Regions from separate parts of the Homo sapiens genome. Here region 1 is linked to region 2. Evidence: fine-mapped expression QTL. A gene starts in region 2. The other region holds a variant in brackets. All regions are shown on one strand. Distances are from middle to middle. Region 1 overlaps ORAI2 (ORAI calcium release-activated calcium modulator 2). Region 2 holds the start of LRWD1 (leucine rich repeats and WD repeat domain containing 1).

The links. PIP is the estimated chance that this variant, and not a neighbour inherited with it, causes the effect.
Region 1: its variant is fine-mapped to the expression of LRWD1 in whole blood (INTERVAL, PIP above 0.99).

The regions. Positions count from the first base shown.
Region 1 is chr7:102,434,999-102,440,362 of GRCh38, reverse strand. ORAI2 (ORAI calcium release-activated calcium modulator 2) reads right to left here. Exons shown (of 4, transcript NM_001126340.3): 2 at 4,030-4,138; 3 at 1,182-1,419. The coding sequence starts at 1,406. Among named protein-coding and RNA genes, the nearest start is that of ORAI2, 4.1 kb to the right of the region's middle. The variant G/C (reference allele first, on the strand shown) is at 2,506.
Region 2 is chr7:102,462,437-102,467,800 of GRCh38, reverse strand. LRWD1 (leucine rich repeats and WD repeat domain containing 1) reads right to left here and starts at 2,817. Exons shown (of 15, transcript NM_152892.3): 1 at 2,641-2,817; 2 at 1,750-1,984; 3 at 1,531-1,647; 4 at 322-462; 5 at 1-82. The coding sequence starts at 2,720. It overlaps ALKBH4 (alkB homolog 4, lysine demethylase), which reads left to right and starts at 2,938. Exons shown (of 3, transcript NM_017621.4): 1 at 2,938-3,087. The coding sequence starts at 2,965. MIR5090 (microRNA 5090) reads right to left here and starts at 2,059; the gene lies at 1,975-2,059. RefSeq lists enhancers at 941-1,000, 1,364-1,889, 2,167-2,266, 1,890-2,416, 2,546-3,195 and a silencer at 2,607-3,036.

The sequences.
Region 1 (5,364 bases), 27 kb after region 2:
CCTAGGGGATGACTCAGAAGGAAGGCGGCCGCTGGGAGCCAGGCCAAAAGCTCTCCTTTGTCACCCTGGAGGCCAGATTCCAGGAACGTCTGCATCGCTAACTGGGCTAAACTGATCCAACCCCAATCAATCTCTGAGGCCCTGCTCAGAGATCCCTGAGAGTTCCAAACTTTTGGGTGGTGCCTGAGACGGGGCAGACATGGGCGCCTTTTCTCAGGAAACCCTGTACCATGCAGCGATTTGATTTGATTTTATCTTTTTAATTAATTAATCTATTTATTTCGAGACAAAGTCTCACTCTTGACCAGCTGGAGTATAGTGGCGTGACCTTGGCTCACTGCAACCTCCGGCCTCCCAGGTTCAAGCGATTCTTGTGTCTCAGCCTCCCAAGTAGCTGGGATTACAGGCGCCTGCTACCATACCCAGCTAATTTTTTTGTACTTTTAGTAGAGACGGTGTTTCACCATGTTGGCCAGGCTGGTCTCGAACTCCTGATCTCAAGTGATCCACTCACCTCGGCCTCCCAAAGTGTTAGGATTACAGGTGTGAGCCAACACGCCTGGCCAAAATAAATAAATAAATTTTATTTTTTCTTTTTAGAGATGGGGTCTCACTCTGACGTCCAGGCTGGAGTGCAGTCGTGTGGACATAACTCATTGAGGCCTCCACCTCCTGGACTCAAGTGATCCTCCTGCCTCAGCCTCCCAAGTAGCTGGGGCTATAGGTGCACGCCACCACGTCCGGCTAATTATTTATTTTATTTTTGTAAAGACAGGGGTCTCCCTGTGTTGCCCAGGCTGGTCTCAAACTCCTGGCCTCAAGCTATCCTCCCACCTTGGCCTCCCAAAGTGCTGGGATTACAGGTGTGAGTCACAGAACCTGAGCTACTATAATTACCCCGCACCAACCTCCCTCCTTGCTAAGCAAATACTTGATGTGAACAGGACAAAGTGGGCTTTCTGAAGATTCTAGAGCTGGGAGCCCCTGGCAACTCCCAGCGCCCCCACTCGCACTGATAGAGTCGTCCTCTTAGAGCAGCTGGGACGTGGGTGGATGCTTCCTACTGGTCCATCCTGGCTGCCAGAGACTGGAGGGAAGGCTCTGGTCCCTGAGGCATCCCGGGACCTCAGTTAGCAAAGCCCATCTGACCAGTGTGCTCCTCACTTGGCGCCCACACTCACCATGGCAAAGCCGGAGAGGAGGGCGGAGGTCCTGCTGGAGGCCTTCAGCTTGGCCCTGCTCAGGTAGAGCTTCCGCCACGACAGGGCCTGTACCGAGTGGTGGTTAGAGGTGACCAGTTCCAGGTAGCTGCGGCGGACCCAGTCCCGGTAATCCATGCCCTTATGGCCGGGCTCAGGGCAGGCAGGAGCAGAGGGGTCGATAGGCACGTTAAGCTCAGCACTCATGGTGGGAGCCAGGCTAAGGGTGGGAGAGAGACATGCTCAGACATCCTAGGTTACTGCGGCCTGGAAGAGCTAGACTCCAAGCCCATTCAACCTACAGAGGCTGCCATATACAGCCCACGCCAGAGCCCAGGGGTTTAGAAAGTGCCCAGGACCTAAAGTTATGTTTCTTTGTTTGTTTGTTTTTGAGACAGTGTCTCACTCTGTCGTCCAGGCTGGAGTGCAGTGGGGCAATCTCACCTCATTGGAAACTCCAGCTCCTAGGTTCAAGCAATTCTCCTGCTTCAGTCTCCTGAGTAGCTGGGATTATGTGTCCGCCACCACGCCTGGCTAATTTTTGTATTTTTAGTAGAGACGGGGTTTCATCATGTTGGCCAGGCTGGTCTCGAACTCCTGACCTCAAGTGATCTGCCTGCCTCAGCCTCCCAAACTGCTGGGATTATAGGTATGCGCCACTGCGCCCAGCCTTCCAGGACCTAAAGTTATGAAACCTGGATTTGACTCTACTGTGTGATTCTGAGCATGACAGCTGACCTTTCTGACCTGGCTCTTTCATCGTGAGAATGGGGATATTTCCACCTGTAGGACTTTTTATTTATTTTTATTTTATTTGATTTGATATATTTTTTTGAGACAGTCTCGCCGAGTTGCCCAGGCTGGAGTGCAGTGGTGCAATCTCTGACTCCCGGCTTCAAGCGATTCTCCTGCCTCAGCCTCCCAAGTACCTGGGACTACAGACGCCCGCCACCATAGCTGGCTAATTTTTGTATTCCTAGTAGAGATGGAGTTTCACCATGTTGGCCAGGCTGGTCTCAAACTCCTGACCTCAGGTGATCCACCTGCCTCAGCCTCCCAAAGTGCTGGGATTACAGGTGTGACCCACCGCGTCCAGCCTACTTTTTTTAAAAATAGAGACAGAGTCTCATTCTGTTGCCCAGGCTGGAGTGCAGTGGTACGATCACAGCTCACTGCAGCCTCGAACTCTTAGGTTCAAGGGAAGCTTCTGCCTCAGCCTTCTGAGGAGCTAGGACCATAAGCACAGGACCATGCCTGCTAATGTTTTAATTTTTCCTAGAGACGGGAATCTCACTATATTGCCCAG[G/C]CTGGTCTTGAACTCCTAGCCTCAAGTGATCCTCCCTCTTACACCTCCCAAAGTGCTGGGATTACACGTGTGGGCCACTGCACCCGGCCTCACCTCTAGGGCTTTTGAATAAGATAATGCATCTGAAGACGAAAGACTTCTTCCAACATCCAGGTGCCAGCCATGGAATAAACATTTCCAAGTAGCTGCTAGTTTCACAGATCCAACTTACATTTTATTATTTTCTAAATTTATTTATTTTTTGAGACAGAGTCTCGCTCTGTCACCCAGGCTAGAGTGAAGTGGCGCAATTTCGGCTCACTGCAACCTCCGCCTCCTGGGTTGAAGCCGTTCTCCTGCCTCAGCCTCCCGAGTAGCTGGGATTACAGGCATGTGCCACCATGCCTGGCTAATTTTTATATTTTTAGTAGAGACAGGGTTTCGCCATGTTGGCCAGCCTGGTCTTGAACTCCAGAGCTCAGGTGATCTGCCCGTCTCAGCCTCCCAAAGTGATGGGATTACAGGTGTGAGCCACCGCACCTGGCCTTCAACTTAAATTTTGATCAGTACAGTTCACCCTAAGAAAAATATTGGACTTACATAACTAAAGCCACATCCAAGCTACAAGGCAAACTTTTAGCAAGATGAAAAATGAAATCCACCAACTCACATGACCACATTTTAAGGAGAAACAGAAGGCGGAGATGCCTGGACTCACACCTGGTAAACATCTGGTTTGACTAACACGGATTAAACATCAGAAGGACAGATCTGTCAAGATTTGTGAATTTAAACCCAAATCTCCACTAAGTAGGGGATTGGCGGTCGCGTGTGTCCCAAGGAGCTGGGCTGCTCGGCCACACGCCAGGATCCAGTTCTAATTAATCTGCAGGGCGTGCTTCAAGGGCACAGGCATCTTGTGGTTTACTTGACATCAAAAAGAGTGACTTTTCCAGCCTGGCCAACATGGTGAAACCCTGTCTCCACTAAAAATACAAAAATTAGCCAGGTGTGGTGGCGGGCTCCTGTAATCCCGGCTACTCGGGAGGCTGAGGCAAGAGAATCGCTTGAACCCAGAAGGCGGAGGTTGCAGTGAGCCAAGATTGCGCCACTGCACTCCAGCCTGGGTGACAGAGCAGGATTCCGTCTCAAAAAAAGAAAAGAAAAGAAAAAAAAGAAACGAAAAGAGTAACTTCTATGTCCAGGCCCACATAGGCCCCACGGAAAGTCTATGTCAGGCTGTTACACACAGATCCGTGTTTCTAGGTCCCAGGGAGCGTGGCTGGGGTGGACGGGTGGAGTGGGGAGTGCTTAACAGGGTCAGCAGCTGAGGAAATGCCCCAAACTTAGTCCATCCATGCCAGAGTCGAGCCCCCCATAATTGAAAATGCCCCAATTTGGAAATTACGCAGGAAGGTGCTGGAGGTGGAAAACAGTGTCGCCTTTCCCTTTGTTCTCAACAAGGCTACAAAGCCACAGCCTTCCCTGGCCAACAAGACCTCTGGGAACAGTTCTGTGCTATTTCTGCCAGGGGATGCCAATTACCAGGTCATTTATACGAATGCCAACTCAGGCTCTCCATCCCATCTCCTTGCGCACATCCGCAGCCAGCAGCACCGCATCCAAGCACTTCCATCCCTGGGACGTTCCTTCCCTTGGGGAGAATTCAGAGAAACGCTGCAATCCGTAGGTTAGCTCCACATAATAGAAAATGCTGTAATTTGGAAACTGCATTTTTCCTCTCCCCCCACCCCCATAGTTAACAGAATTGAGCATGCAGGTCTGATGACCGCAGTATACAGAGACTGGAGGGGTGAGACGCTAACCTTTGCTCCCTCCGTCCTCCCTCCTCCATCACACAGGTGCTTAGCGCACTTGGTACTTAAAGATCCAAGATGAAAGAGGCCAGAATTCATGGCCTCCCAGTAGGGGAGCAAGGTAAGGGGATGTGGGTCAGGAGCAGTAGCTCACACCTGTCATCTTTGGGAGGCTGAGGTGGGCGGATCACTAGAGGTCAGGAGTTCGAGACTAGCCTGGACAACATGGTGGAAACCTGTCTCTTCTAAAAATACAAAAAGTAACTGGGCATGGTGGTGGGCGCCTGTAATCCCAGCTACTCAGGAGGCTGAGGCAGGAGAATTGCCTGATCCCAGGAGGCGGAGGTTGCAGTGAGCTGAGATCCTACCGCGGCACTCCAGCCTGGGTGACACAGTGAGACTCTGTCTTAAAAAAAAAAAAATAGCTGGGTGTGGTGGCAGAGGTTGCAGTGAGCCAAGAGCACACCACTGCACTCCAGCCTGGGCAACAGAGCGAGACTCCATCTCAAAAAAAAAAAAAAAAAAGAGGGGGGGGCAATCCTCATCCACTGAGCTAAAGGCTTCAATGGAGGGCAGGGAGCAGAGGACTGGCTGCCTCACACCAAGGCCAGGAAAAGGTGCTTGCAGGTAACACCGGGGAGGGGACAGAGCGGCCCTTTGCATGCCAAAGTGCCTCATGCCTGTAATCCCAGTGTTTTGTGAGGCCAAGGTGGGAGGATCACCTGCGGCCAGGAGCTGGAGACCAGCCTAGGCAACAGAGTAAGACGCTGTCTCTAAAAATAATTTTTTTTGACATGGGGTCCTGCTGTGTTACCAAGGCTGGAGTGCAGTGGCACAATCTCAGCTCCCTGCAAATTCTACCTCCCAGGCTCAAGCGATCCTCCCGCCTCAACCACCCGAGTAGCTGGGACTACATGTGTGTGCCACCATACCTGGCTAATTTTTGGTATTTTTGGTAGAGACAGGGTTTTGCTATGTTGGCCAGGCTGGTCTAGAACTCCTGAGCTCAAGTGATCCGCCCACCTTGGCCTCCCAAAGTGCTGAGATTATAGGCATGAACCAC
Region 2 (5,364 bases):
CTTCTGGGGGCTTCTCTGGGCTGTTAGCCTTTTGCACCTGGGTCCTACTGGCGGCCACCAGCTCCTCAGAGATCATCCGCACCTGGGTGGGGCCAGGCCATCAGGAAGCTGGGCAGAGTCCCAGGTGCCCCCAGCCCTGCCGATGCATAGTCAGGGGGAGCTTATGCTTCCAGAGTTGGGGAAGGGCCTCTCCAGCCAACAGGGCTGCCCACCCTGACTCACCCCACTCCCACAGCCCCTCAGCCCTTCATGGCCAGGGACCTCCAGGCAGCTAGAGATACGAGAGCCAGTGACTCCCTGCACATTGGGACAGGGACATACCCGCCACTGGGTGAACTCGCTGAGGGACTCGGGCCCGTAGCGGACATCCCTGACAGCCGACTTCACAAAGTCCGCCTGGGCCTTCTCAGCCTCCTCTTCAGGACCCAGTGTGGCCATGAACTTCTCCCAGTGAGCTGTGACCTGGTGCAAGAGGGACCAGATCCAGGCCCGGCCCACCCCAGCTCCTCCGGACCCAGCCCTCCATCTCAGGGAATCTCAATCCCGCCACCTGCTGGAAGCCTCCTGGAATCACAGCCTCATAAAACACACACACACACACACACACACACACACACACACACACACACCCCACACACACCCCAGCAACAACCCAGGTGCCTACACACACACACACACACACCCCAGCAACAACCCAGGTGCCTACACACACACACACACACACACACACCAGCAACAACCCAGGTGCCTATAGTCCCAGCCACTGGGAGGCTGAGGAAGAAGCATCGCTTGAGGCCAGGAGTTGGAGCCTGGGGAACAGAGCAAGATCCCATCTCTACAAAAAATTTTAAAATGATCCAGACGTGGTGGCATGCGCCTAAAGCCCCAGCTATTCAGAAGGCTAAGGCGGGAAGATCGCTTGAGCCCAGGAGTTGGAGGCTGCAGTGAGATACGATCACACCACTGCACTTCAACATGGGCAGCAGAGCGAGACCCTGTCTCTAAAAAAAAAAAAAAAAAAAAAAAAAAAAAAAAAAAAAGGTAAAAAAGAAACACCCCAGAAAAAGCTACTTAGAAGAGTCAGGCCGGGTGTGGTGACTCATACCTGTAATCCCGACACTTTGGGAGGCCAAGGCGGGCAGATCACCTAAGGCCAGGAGTTTGAGGCCAGCCTGGCCAACATGGTGAAACCCTGTCTCTACTAAAAATACAAAAAAAATTAGCTGGGCATGGTGGCAGGTGCTTGTAATCCTAGTTACTCGGGAGGCTGAGGCAGGAAAATCACTTGAACCTGGGAGGCAGAGGTTGCAATGAGCCAAGATCGCATCACTGCACTCCAGCCTGGGCGACGGAGTGAGACTCCATCTCAAAAAATAAATAAATAAATAAAGTAGCACATCAGGCTAGGGGCTGTTGGGGCAAAGAGCCTCTATCAGTCACCCTCCTCAACATCCTCCTGATGTCCAATTCTATCATTCTCCCAATGCCCCCACAGCTCCTAAGCACACAATAATCCTCTCATCCCCTTACCCTGCTGGTCAGCTCCCGATTCAGGTTCTCCACCTGAGAGTAAGTTGAGGACGCATCCTTGCCATTGACCTTACGGAGCGTGGGCAGGAGAAAGGAGACTTTCAGGTTGTCATTGACCTGGGGAAGAGAGGGTGAAGAGCAGTGGCTCAGGAGATGCTGAGCCTGAGCCCAACAGAGTCCTGGCCCCAGGTATGAAGCTGGTGGGAGGCTCCCACTTACCGTCAGGAAGGGGTTGCCCTCCAGGCTGAGTTCCTCGAGCTTGGGGAACTGGCACAAGGCAGTAACATCCCCCAGCTGGTTGTTGGCGCAGCGGAGGACACGCAGGTGGGACAGGCCCAGGTTGTCCGGCAGCGTCTCCAGGTGGTTGTTAGACAGGTCAAGCTCCTGCAGCTGCGTCAGGCGGCACAGGAGTTTGGGGTCCAGGTGCTCGGAAAGCAGCTCCAATCCTGACAGGCTGGAGTTGGGGGCAGAAGGCTTAGGGGGCGGGCAGGCTTTGCACCCTACACCAATCTGCCCCGGGTACCTCAGAAGGCTTTTTCACCTGACATTTCTCGTACAAGTGTAGCCGCCCCGCCCATCCCCCCGTTACTTTATTTTTAGAGACGGGGTGTCACTCAGTCGCCTAGGCGCGATCATAGCTCACAGCTGCCTCCAACTCCTGGGCTGAGGGATCCTCCCGCCTCAGCCTCTCGAGTAGCTGGGACTAGAAGCGCGCGCCACTACTCCCGACTCCACACCACTTAACAAAAAAAAAAAAAAAAAAAAAAAAAAAAAAAAAAAAGCTGCAACTACTTTAGGACTCGGGGGCATCCTAGCCCCCTCTAGGATGCTCTTCCTGATCCTTCGGGGGCTCGTCTGTGCTTCCCAGGCCCTCTAACGATAGCGGCAGGCTGTGCCCCTAACTGTCCGGGCTCCCTTCAGGGGATGAGGCCCCTCGGGGCTCCCGGCGAGCGGGTGGGGCCACGATCTCCCAACAAGAAGACATTTGGACCACTCTGCCGAACCCAGAGGGCGATAACGGGGACAAGCGGGCCGTTGGGGAGGGTCCCCGCTCTTCTCCCCGACCGCCCGGCCCCGAGGACACAGCCTCACCCGCTGCCCGGCTCTTACTCCAGACTCCGGATCTTCCCCAGCCGGTCGCTCTTGGGGCGCCCGCGCTGCATTAGCAGCCGCGCCGAGAGGGGGCCCATGGCGAGGAGGCGCAGCCCGCGCTGACCCAGTCGGCCACCCCGGCGTGTGGCGTCGCCCTGCGTCTCCTGGAGCCCGGCACTGGCGTCCGCGGTAACTGAGCCCAGGAGGCGGCGCCGCGCGAGCCCGTGGGCGTTAACGACCGGAAGGAAGCGGAACCCAGGCCTCGTGCCCCCGCCCGGCGCGGACTACAACTCCCAGCGGCCCCCACGGCCGCGCCTGCGCACTGGCCACGCGGACGGCGCGATGGCGGCGGCTGCCGCCGAGACCCCCGAAGTCCTTCGGGAATGCGGTTGCAAGGGCATCCGGACCTGTCTGATCTGCGAGCGGCAGCGCGGCAGTGACCCGCCCTGGGAGCTGCCCCCAGCGGTAAGGGGTGGGAGAGGGGCCGCGCCCACAAACGTCGCTCTGCATCTGGGGAAACTGAGGTCCAGCTTGGCCATGATAGGGGCCGGGATCGAAGCCTGTGAGGGACCCTTACGGTAGGGGTGATGCAGGGTGAGGAGATGAGGGCTTTAAGGAGCGGGCTTGGGAGTGGGGAAGGAGCTGGAACGTGGGTGGGTTCGATTACAGGTCACCTCGGGGACTCTGGGGGGATCTGCCTGTAAACCTCGACGTAGCCTCTCGGGTCTGGCGCTGGGAGCTTCACGGGCCTGCAGGGAGATGACACGGAAAGGGTCGATCGAGGGTGCTGAATACCAGTCCAACGGTGCCTGAAGGCCGTGGACTGCAATGGGCAAGGAGACAGTGAATTCCAGTTAACTAACGAAAAGGAACTCAAGGATCGCTGCAACCCAGGAGCTGGAGGCTGCAGTGAGCTATGATCGAGCCACCTCACTTCAGCCTGGGCGACAGAGCGAGACTCTGTCTCACAAAAAGAAAATAAATAAAAAAAGAAAAAGAACTCAGCGCCTTTGGGCTGGCATGGAAGGACTGTGGTTGGTTGCAAGGGCATTCCAACCCAGAAAACTGCGTGGGGTAGGAAGGTGGATTGGTGATGCCTCAGGTGAGAGAGATGAGGCTGGAGAGGTTGTGGGGGGGGGGAGGTCTGATCACAGATGCTCCCCGGTGCATCAGCTGAGCAGGCTGGACTTGTCCCAAAGGCCCTGGAGAGCTCTTGAAGGGTTTTAAAGGAGTGATGAAGTCAAATGTGAATTTTAGAAAGATCCTGGGAAGGGAACGGGCAGATATGAAGGTGTGGAGGCTGGTAAGCCAGTGAAGACTGCCCCAACGTCCATGGTAAAAGTGCCCAAGGTCCTATGGAAACAGCATGGCATGCCTCATGAATTAAACATAGAATTACCCATGATCCGCAATCCTGCTTCTGGGTATATATCCAAAGGAACTAAAAGCAGGGTCTGGAAGAGATATTTGCACACCCATGTTCATATTCACGACATTATTCATGACAGCCCAAAGATGGAAGCAAACCAAGCATCTATCAAGATACCTGGGCCGGGTTCAGTGGCTCACGCCTGTAATCCCAGCACTTTGGGAGGCTGAGGTGGGCAGATCACCTGAGGTCAGGAGTTTGAGACCTGCCTGGCTAACATGGCGAAACCCTGCCTCTACTAAAATTACAAAAACTTGCCGGGCTTGGTGAGGCACATCTGTAATCCCAGCTACTCGGGAGGCTGAGGCAGGAGAATCGCTTGAACCCAGGAGGCAGAGGTTGCAGTGAGCCAAGATCGCACCACTGCACTCCAGCTCAGGTGACAGAGCAAGACTCCTTCTCAAAAAAAAAAAAAAAAAAAAAAAAAGAGATGACTTGATCCACAAAATGTGGTGCATACACATAGTAGAATACTATTCAGCCTTAAAAAGGAAGGACAGGCCGGGCACAGTGGCTCACACCTGTAATTCCAGCACTTTGGGAGACCGAGGCAGGCAGATTGCCAGAGCCCAGGAGTTTGAGACCAGCATGGGCAACATGGTGAAATCCCACCTCTACAAAAAAATTAACCATACATGGTGACACGTACCTGTAGTCCCAGCTACCCAGGAGGCTGAGGTGGGAGGGTTGCTTGAGCCTGGGAGGTCAAGGCTGCAGTGAGCTGTGATCACGCCACTGCACTCCAGCTTGGGCAACATAGTGAGACCCTGTCTCAAAAAAAAAAAAAAAAAAAAGGACATTTTGACATATGTTACAGCATGGACGAACCTTGGGGACACGATGCTAAGTTAAGGAAGCAGTCACAGAAGACAAATACTGCATGATTCCTGTTGTGTGAGCTACGTAGGGTAGTCACAGGGACAGAAAGTAGAAGGGTTGTTGCCAAGGGCTCAGGAAGGGGAGATGGGGACCTGTTGTTTAATAGGGAAAGAGTTTCAGTTTTGCAAGATGAAAAAGTTCTGAATGGTGGTGACGGCTGTACAACAATATGAATGAACTTAAGAGTTTTAATTTGTGGAAGGGGCCAGGTGCGGTGGCTCATGCCTATAATCCCAGCCCTTTGGGAGGCTGAGGCAGGAGGCTCGCCTGAGTCTAGGAGTTTGAGACCAGCTTGGACAACATAGCAAGACCCTGTCTCTACAAAAAATTTAAAAATTAGCTAGGTGTGGTGGTGTGTGCTTGTAGTCCCAGTTACTTGGGAGGCTGAGGTGGGAGGATTGCCTGAGCCCAGGAGGTCAAGGCTGCAGTGAGCT